Linked DNA regions of Homo sapiens. The protein of the gene in region 2 purifies or fractionates together with the protein of the main gene of each other region. This does not show direct contact. Each region holds a gene or a part of one and is shown on either strand. Other genes may lie near its edges.

Evidence for each region. Proteins that work in one complex are often made in the same cells at the same time.
Region 1: the proteins of THUMPD1 (region 2) and QTRT1 purify together in Homo sapiens (affinity purification with mass spectrometry; 3 studies listed by BioGRID and IntAct, with this or other methods). This does not show direct contact.

The regions. Positions count from the first base shown.
Region 1 is NC_000019.10:10,704,389-10,708,140, forward strand, and holds part of QTRT1 (queuine tRNA-ribosyltransferase catalytic subunit 1), read left to right. Parts: intron 1-2,913; coding exon 2,914-2,992; intron 2,993-3,111; coding exon 3,112-3,227; intron 3,228-3,752.
Region 2 is NC_000016.10:20,740,305-20,744,056, forward strand, and holds the start of THUMPD1 (THUMP domain-containing protein 1), read right to left. Parts: upstream 1,515-3,752; 5' UTR 1,436-1,514; coding exon 1,205-1,435; intron 1-1,204. UniProt on the Homo sapiens protein: Functions as a tRNA-binding adapter to mediate NAT10-dependent tRNA acetylation modifying cytidine to N4-acetylcytidine (ac4C).

The DNA.
Region 1 (3,752 bases), on a different chromosome or scaffold from region 2:
GTTCATGCCATTCTCCTGCCTCAGCCTCCGGAGTAGCTGGGACTACAGGCACCCGCCATTACGCCCAGCTAATTTTTTTGTACTTTTACTAGAGACGGGGTTTCATCGTGTTAGCCAGGATGGTCTCGATCTCCTGACCTCGTGATTCGCCCATCTCGGCCTTCCAAAGTGCTGGGATTACAGGCGTGAGCCACCGCACCCGGCCTCTTTTTTTTTGAAACCGAGTTTCGCTCTTGTTGCCCAGGCTGGAGTGCAATGGCGCAATCTCGGCTCACAGCAACCTCTGCCTCCTGGGTTCAAGCGATTCTCCTGCCTCAGCCTCCCGAGTAGCTGGGATGACAGGCATGCGCCACCATGCCCGGCTAATTTTGTATTTTTGGTAGAGACGGGGTTTCTCCATGTTGGTCAGGCTGGTCTTGAACTCCCGACCTCAGGTGATCCGCCTGCCTCAGCCTCCCAAAGTGCTGGCATTACAGGTGTGAGCCACCATGCCCAGCTAAAGTTCTAGCTTTTTAATGAATGTCGTAATTTTTTTTTTTTTTTTTGATGTGGAATCTCGCTCTGTCACCTAGGCTGGAGTGCAGTGGCTCGATCTTGGCTCACTGCAACCTCTGCTGCCCGGGTTTAAGCTATTCTCCTGCCTCAGCCTCCCCAGCAGCTGGGACTACAGGTGCCTGCCACCACGCCTGGTAATTTTTGTACTTTTAGTAGAGACGGGGTTTCACCTTGTTGGTCAGGCTGGTCTTGAACTCCTGACTTCAGGTGGTCCACCTGCCTCAGCCTCCCAAAGGGCTGGGATTACAGGCGTGAGCCACCGCACCCAGCCCCATATTTATTTTTTCGTCTTTTCTTTTTTTTTTTCTTTTTTGAGAAGGAGTCTCACTCTTTGACCAAGGCTGGAGTGCAGTGGCACTGTGTTGGCTTACTGCAACCTCTGTCTTCTGGGTTCAAGCACTTCTCCTGCTGCAGCCTCCCGAGTAGCTGGGATTACAGGTGCCCATCACCACACCTGGCTAGTTTTTATATTTTTAGTAGAGACGGGGTTTCACCATGTTGGCCAGGCCGGTCTCGAACTCCTGACCTAAGGTGATCCACCCGTCTCGGCCTCCCAAAGTGCTGGGACTACAGGCGTGAGTCACCACGCCTGCCCCTTTTTTTCTTTTTTGAGACACAATCTCGCTCTGTCACCCGGGCTGGAGTACTGTGGTGCAATCTCGGCTCACTGCAACCTTTGCTTCCTGGGTTCAAGCGATTCTCCTGCCTCAGCCTCCCAAGTAGCTGGGACTTCAGGTGCATGCCACCATGCCGGGCTAATTTTTGTATTTGTTGTAGAGACAGGGTTTCACCATATTGGCCAGGGTGGTCTTGAACTCCCGATCTCAAGTGATTGACCTGCTTTGGCCTCCCAAAGTGCTGGGGTTACAGGCGCAAGCCACCAGGCCTGGCCTGTTCTTTTTTTTTTTTTTTTTTTTTTTTTTTTTTGTGGAGACAGAGTCTCGCTCTGTCACTCAGGCTGGAGTGTAGTGGTGCGATCTCGGCTCACTGCAAGCTTCACCTCCCGGGTGCACACCATTCTCCTGCCTCAGTTCCCGAGTAGCTGGGACTACAGGTGACCGCCACCACGCCCGGCTAATTTTTTGTATTTTTAGCAGAGACAGGGTTTCACTGTGTTCGCCAGGATGGTGTCAATCTCCTGACCTGGTGATCCACACGCCTTGGCCTCCCAAAGTGCTGGGATTACAGGCGTGAGCCACTGCGCCCGGCTGTGGCCTGTTCTTTTTTATTTTAAATTGTTTTCATCTATTTATTTTCTTAATAATGGAGATGGGGTCTCTCTGTGTTGCCCAGGGTGGTCTCGAACTCCTGGGCTCTAGTGATCCTTCCGCCTGGGCCTTCCAAAGTGTTTGGATTATAGGTCATCAAGTTTCATTTTATGCCACTAAACCACTATGCTGTGCACCGTGGCTCATGCCTATAATCTTAGCACTTTTGTTTTGTTTTTGAGACGGTGTCTCGCTCTGTCGCCTTGGCTGGAGTACAGTGGTGCAATCTTAGCTCACCGCAACCTCCGTCTTCCGGGTTCAAGCGATTCTCCTGCCTCAGCCTCTTGAGTAGCTGGGATTACAGGAATATACCACCACGCCCGGCTAATTTTTGTATTTTTAGTAGAGACGGGGTTTCACCACCTTGGCCAGGCTGGTCTCGAACTCCTGACCTCAAATGATCCACCTGGGTTGGCCTTCCAAAGTGCTGAGATGACAAGCGTGAGCCATCGCGCCTGTTTTTTTTTTTTTAACCTTTTTTTTTTTTTTTTAACACAGCCTTGCTCTGTCATCCAGGCTGGAGTGCAGTGGCACAATCTTGGCTCACTGCTACCTCTGTCTCCCAGATTCAAGCTATTCTCCTGTCTCTGCCTTCCAAGCAGCTGGGAATACAGGCACGTGCCATCATACCTGGCTAATTTTTGTGTTTTTAGGAGAGATGGGGTTTCACCATGTTGGCGAGGCTGGTCTTGAACTCCTGACCTCAGATGACCTGCCTGCCTCGGCGTCCCCAAGTGCTGGGATTACAGGCGTAGTCACTGCGCCCAGTCAGCAGAGCCCTGCTGATGGACGTTTGGTTTCCCGGTCTTGCTGTGGCACGCCACATAGCAAGGGATCCCTTTGTATATTTTAGGATTTTATTTTGTGTAACAGGATAGGATTTTAAGCTGGGGAGAGGCAGGATCAAAGGCACATTCTGTAAAGCTCCTTCTGGCTGCTGTATAAACAGACCGGGAAAGTCACGTGGGAGTTAGCAAGACGGGGGATGGGGGGATGCTCTTGGGGAAGTCCAACTTGTCCCCATGTGACGGCAGGCTTTCCCCAAGCATTGCGGGCTTTCCCAGTGATGTTGCCCCCATCTCACCATCAGGCTCGGACATCATCATGCAGCTGGACGACGTGGTTAGCAGTACTGTGACTGGGCCACGTGTGGAGGAGGCCATGTACAGGTGTGTATATGCTGTGTGCATGTGTGGGATATGTGGTGGGAGGGGATCCTGGTCCCTGTAGCCTTGTCTCCTACCCCCTCACCAGGCCCCTGGGGCTTGTGACTGGGGCCCTGTTGCAGGTCAATCCGCTGGCTGGACCGGTGCATTGCAGCCCATCAGCGGCCGGACAAGCAGAACCTCTTCGCCATTATCCAGGGTGGGCTGGACGCAGATCTCCGGGCCACCTGCCTTGAAGGTAGAGCCATGCGCTGGCAGGCCCAGGGCTTGGCCATCGCGGAGGTCCCCACATGGGCCTGGCGTATGGCGGGACTGGATTGCTAATGTGTAGAAGGGCACTGCGCTAGAAAAAATAGCCGGAGCAAAGGCTCTCGGGCCACGTGCAGTAGAATGTATTGAGAGAATGGCCATGATTCCAGTAGTTAATGATCTTCTAGGTTTTTTGTTTGTTTGTTTTTGTTTTTTTTTTTGAGACGGAGTCTCAGGTGATCCACCCCCCTTGGCCTCCCAAAGTGCTGGGATTATAGTCATGAGCCACCGCGCCCAGCCTATTTATGTATTTATTTATTTTACTTTTTTTTTTTTTGGAGGGTGGAGTCTTGCACTGTCGCCCAGGCTGGAGTGCTGTGGCGCGATCTCGGCTCACTGCAACCTCTGCCTCCCTGCAACCTCCGCCTCCCGGGTTCAATCTATTCTCCTGCCTCAGCCTCCTGAGTAGCTGGGACTACAGGCACCCGCCACCAGGCCCGGCTAATTTTTGTAT
Region 2 (3,752 bases):
GGACTGCTTCAGCCCCGGAGGTGGAAGTTGCAGTGAGCAAGAGCATGCCACTGTACTCCAACCTCCACCTTGGGTGACAGAGCAAGACCGCTTCCAAAAAAAGAATTTGCTTAAAGTACAGGAGTAGACAGGATATGTGCTTGTTGCCCAGCTCTCTGCCCCCTAGTGCCCAACGAAATTGCCAGTCAGGCACAATAATAATTGTATACATTTACAGAAACTTTATTACATACCAGTATGTATTTTATGTACATAAGCAACTCACTAGCCAGTCTTAAAGTATTCTCTTTTTTATCTAGCTCAGCAGCATCAAATAATGTGCCCATGTCCGAGTCCCCAAGCTAGTAGAGGATGAGCCGTGAATTTAAATTCCCTCTGTATTACCCTTCTTCATTTAATCCCTCAGTGTGCGTGTGTGTATTGGTCCAGATTCTAAGCCAGTAATATGATTTCCAAACACTAAGACTTTAGGTGATATTGGTAAAAGTTTTTACGTTCTAAAATGTATTTTAAGTGCAGTAACTAGCATTAGTAGTAAACCTATTATTTCAGAAATATTATTGCTTCAGGTAAACACATTATTACTCCAACTTCACGAGGCTGTCATGAAAAATGTGTTTCTGAAAGAGCTTCAGCACACCGCCTGGCCCTCAATGAGCAATCCTTAAGTGGGAGGTAGGCCGGGCTCAGTGGCTCGCGCCTGTAATCTCAGCACCTTGAGAGGCAGAGACGGGAGGATCGCTTGAGTGTAGGGTTTAGGACTACCCTGGGCCAAACAGTGAGACCCCTTATCTACAATTTACAAAACTTAGCCGAGAGTGGTGGCGCGCACTCATAGTCCCAGCTACTCTGGAGGCTGAGACAGGAGAAGTCGAGGCTTCCCTGAGCTATCATCACGCCACTGCACTCCAGCCTCGGCAACAGAGCGAGACCCTGTCTCACAAAAATAAAAATAAAAGTAATGGGAGCTACCGTGGTTACTGATGGCAAGAAAAGGTGCAAGCACTTCAAGCACAAAACCGATAGCACCGAAGTCTGCGAGCGTCTCAGGACTAGGGACGGAAACGCCGGCGAGGCCACGCCCCTACAGCCGTCACGCCGACGACCCGAGGCGCGCATGCCCATACCAGCAGCCATCCCTCCACCCTTCCCTCCTCCCGCAAGGCCTGGCAGCCGGCCCGCCCGCCCACCCCGGGACCGGTACCTTTTCTGGCCCATACATGTCGTCGCCGTATTCGTTGAGGAGGCTGTAGGCCTCCTCCACGCACTTGCGCTCGTTCATATTGCAGGTGATGAGGATGCCCTGTAGCCCGGGCTCTAGCTGACGGGGCCCGCCAGCGTCGCAGCGCCGAGCGCGCTTGGCCAGCACATACTGAGCCTTGCCTTTGCGCTTCCCGCCGCCAGGCTGAGTAGTCTGCTGGGCAGGGGCCGCCATGGTGTGCGCAAACTGAGAGGAAAGAGAAACGTTTCTCCGCTGCTGTTGGCGTCCTCGTCTATCGCCGGCGCGAACTGGTGACGTCGGATATGAGCGACGGCCTCCCCTAGCCGGCCTCGAAGCCTCATTCCGTGCTGCGCCAGGTCCTAAGGCCGGTCTGCAATCGTGAAAGGGGTGGAGTGATACCCGCCCAAGCCCCGCCTCCTGCCCCGCCTCCCGACTGCAACCTGAATCCAGTAGAGGCAGCATAGCAGCCATTCTGGAAGTGGTGTCGGTGGCTCCTCAAGCCCTTGAAGCTGGCTCCAGCCATATAGCTTCTTCCACCCAACCTTGGTACCTGTTCCTCCAGCCTTCCCTATAATTCTGCCAGCTACTGTGGAGGAAAAGTTAAATATTAAATTTGAACTCAATTGAACGTGGACACAATGGTCAAGTCCCGTAACAGGTTGCATGAGCCCCTTGAGGCATTCATTCATCCAGCACTGTTACAGATAACTCTGTACCTGTACTTGAGTTATTGAAAAACAGACAATCACAGAAACAAGTTGACCTTTATGTGTTCCTTGAGCCCAGTCGAGAAGGGCCCTCGTGACTGGGCCTCATGCCAATCAACGCATTACAAAAAGAGCCAGGGTCGGCCGGGCACGGTGGCTCACGCCTGTAATCCCAGCACTTTGGGAGGCCAAGGCAGGCAGATCACGAGGTCAGGAGATGGAGACCATCCTGACCAACATCTCTACTAAAATGCAAAAAATTAGCCAGGCGTGGTGGCGCGCACCTGTAGTCCCAACTACTCGGGAGGCTGAGGCAGGGGAATCACTCGAACTCGGGAAGCGGCGGTTGCAGTAAGCCGAGATCGTGCCATTGCACTCCAGCCTGGCAACAAAGCGAGGCTCTGTCTCAAAAAAAAAAAAAAAATGAGCCAGGGTCCCAGGCCACACGGAAGCTTCTTGAGACCCCTCCTCCTCTGTGCACGGACAAGTGGCTGACTCTGGAGCCCAGGCTGTTGCTTCCCGGTCTGGTGATGAATCCAACATAGTCTGGTGCGTGTAAATATATATATATATATATATATTTTTTTTTTTTCCCTTCTCCCCTTCCCATTGCAATTTGCTTACTATATCATTTGCTTATTATATCTGCATTGCCATTTACGTGGGATAAAGGTTGTTTACCCCCAAAGGTATTGTATGTTTGTCTATTTTTTTTTTTTTTTTTTGAGATGGAGTCTCGCTCTGTCGCCCAGGCTGGAGTGCAGTGGTGCGATCTGGGCTCACTGCAAGCTCCGCCTCCCAGGTTCACCCCATTCTCCTGCCTCCCTCCCGAGTAGCTGGGACTACAGGCGCCCGCCACCACGCCCGGCTAATATTTTTTATTTTTAGTAGAGACGGGGTTTTACCGTGTCAGTCAGGATGGTCTCAATCTCCTGACCTCGTGATCCACCCGCCTCGGCCTCCCAAAGTGCTGAGATTACAGGCGTGAGCCACCGCGCCTGGCCGTATTTTGTCTTGTTTTTTCCCCTCGCGCATTTCCCACATAGAACAGTTACTCAAAAGGCTTCCAGTAAATTCCATTTCAGCCTCAATTTTCCAGGCTATGTTTCTATTTCACTTAAAACCAAGGATGTTGGCTGGTGTTGTTTCATGCTGCTTTCGTTGCGGCCTTTTATCCATAGTCTTGGCAACTTATCATGTTACTGTCTTTTTAAAAATCATTGAAGATGCCACTTTTGAAGAATGTGTTTAAAAAACAAGTGCTTCTCATACTACTCTTCAGGTACAAACCTCTTAGCAGATTTGAGTTCCTACAAAGCCCTAAAAGATGTAATCTGATATTTTGAAAGGGACACCGAATTCACAGTCAATAAACCCTAGGTTCTAACCCCAGATCTACCACTATGTCCAAAAATTTTATCATCTTATTGTTTGCTTTTACCTGTGTATTCAATACAGCATTTAATTTTCAGAATTTCTTTGGTGGACACTGCACAGCAGAGATTTCTAGAAGTCCTCAGTTGTTTGTGAAGAGCAGTGTCATGACACTGGCATTGGCCTTCCCCCAAATCTCTCTCTCTTCTGCTGGCTGGGTTTCAGTTGCCCACACTCTGCCACCTGTCCTTAGGATATCAAATATTAGCATACAGATAACAAGTTAAAATATATATATTTCAAGTCCCAAGCATATTTGAGTACTATATGGAGGCAAACTTGAAAAACAAAAACTCAGTTTTGTTAAAATATGTGAGGAGGCAGCTTTAGGCTAAATTTAAGTTTGGCCTAAATCAAGCTTGTCCAACCTGTTGGCCCACAGTCAACAT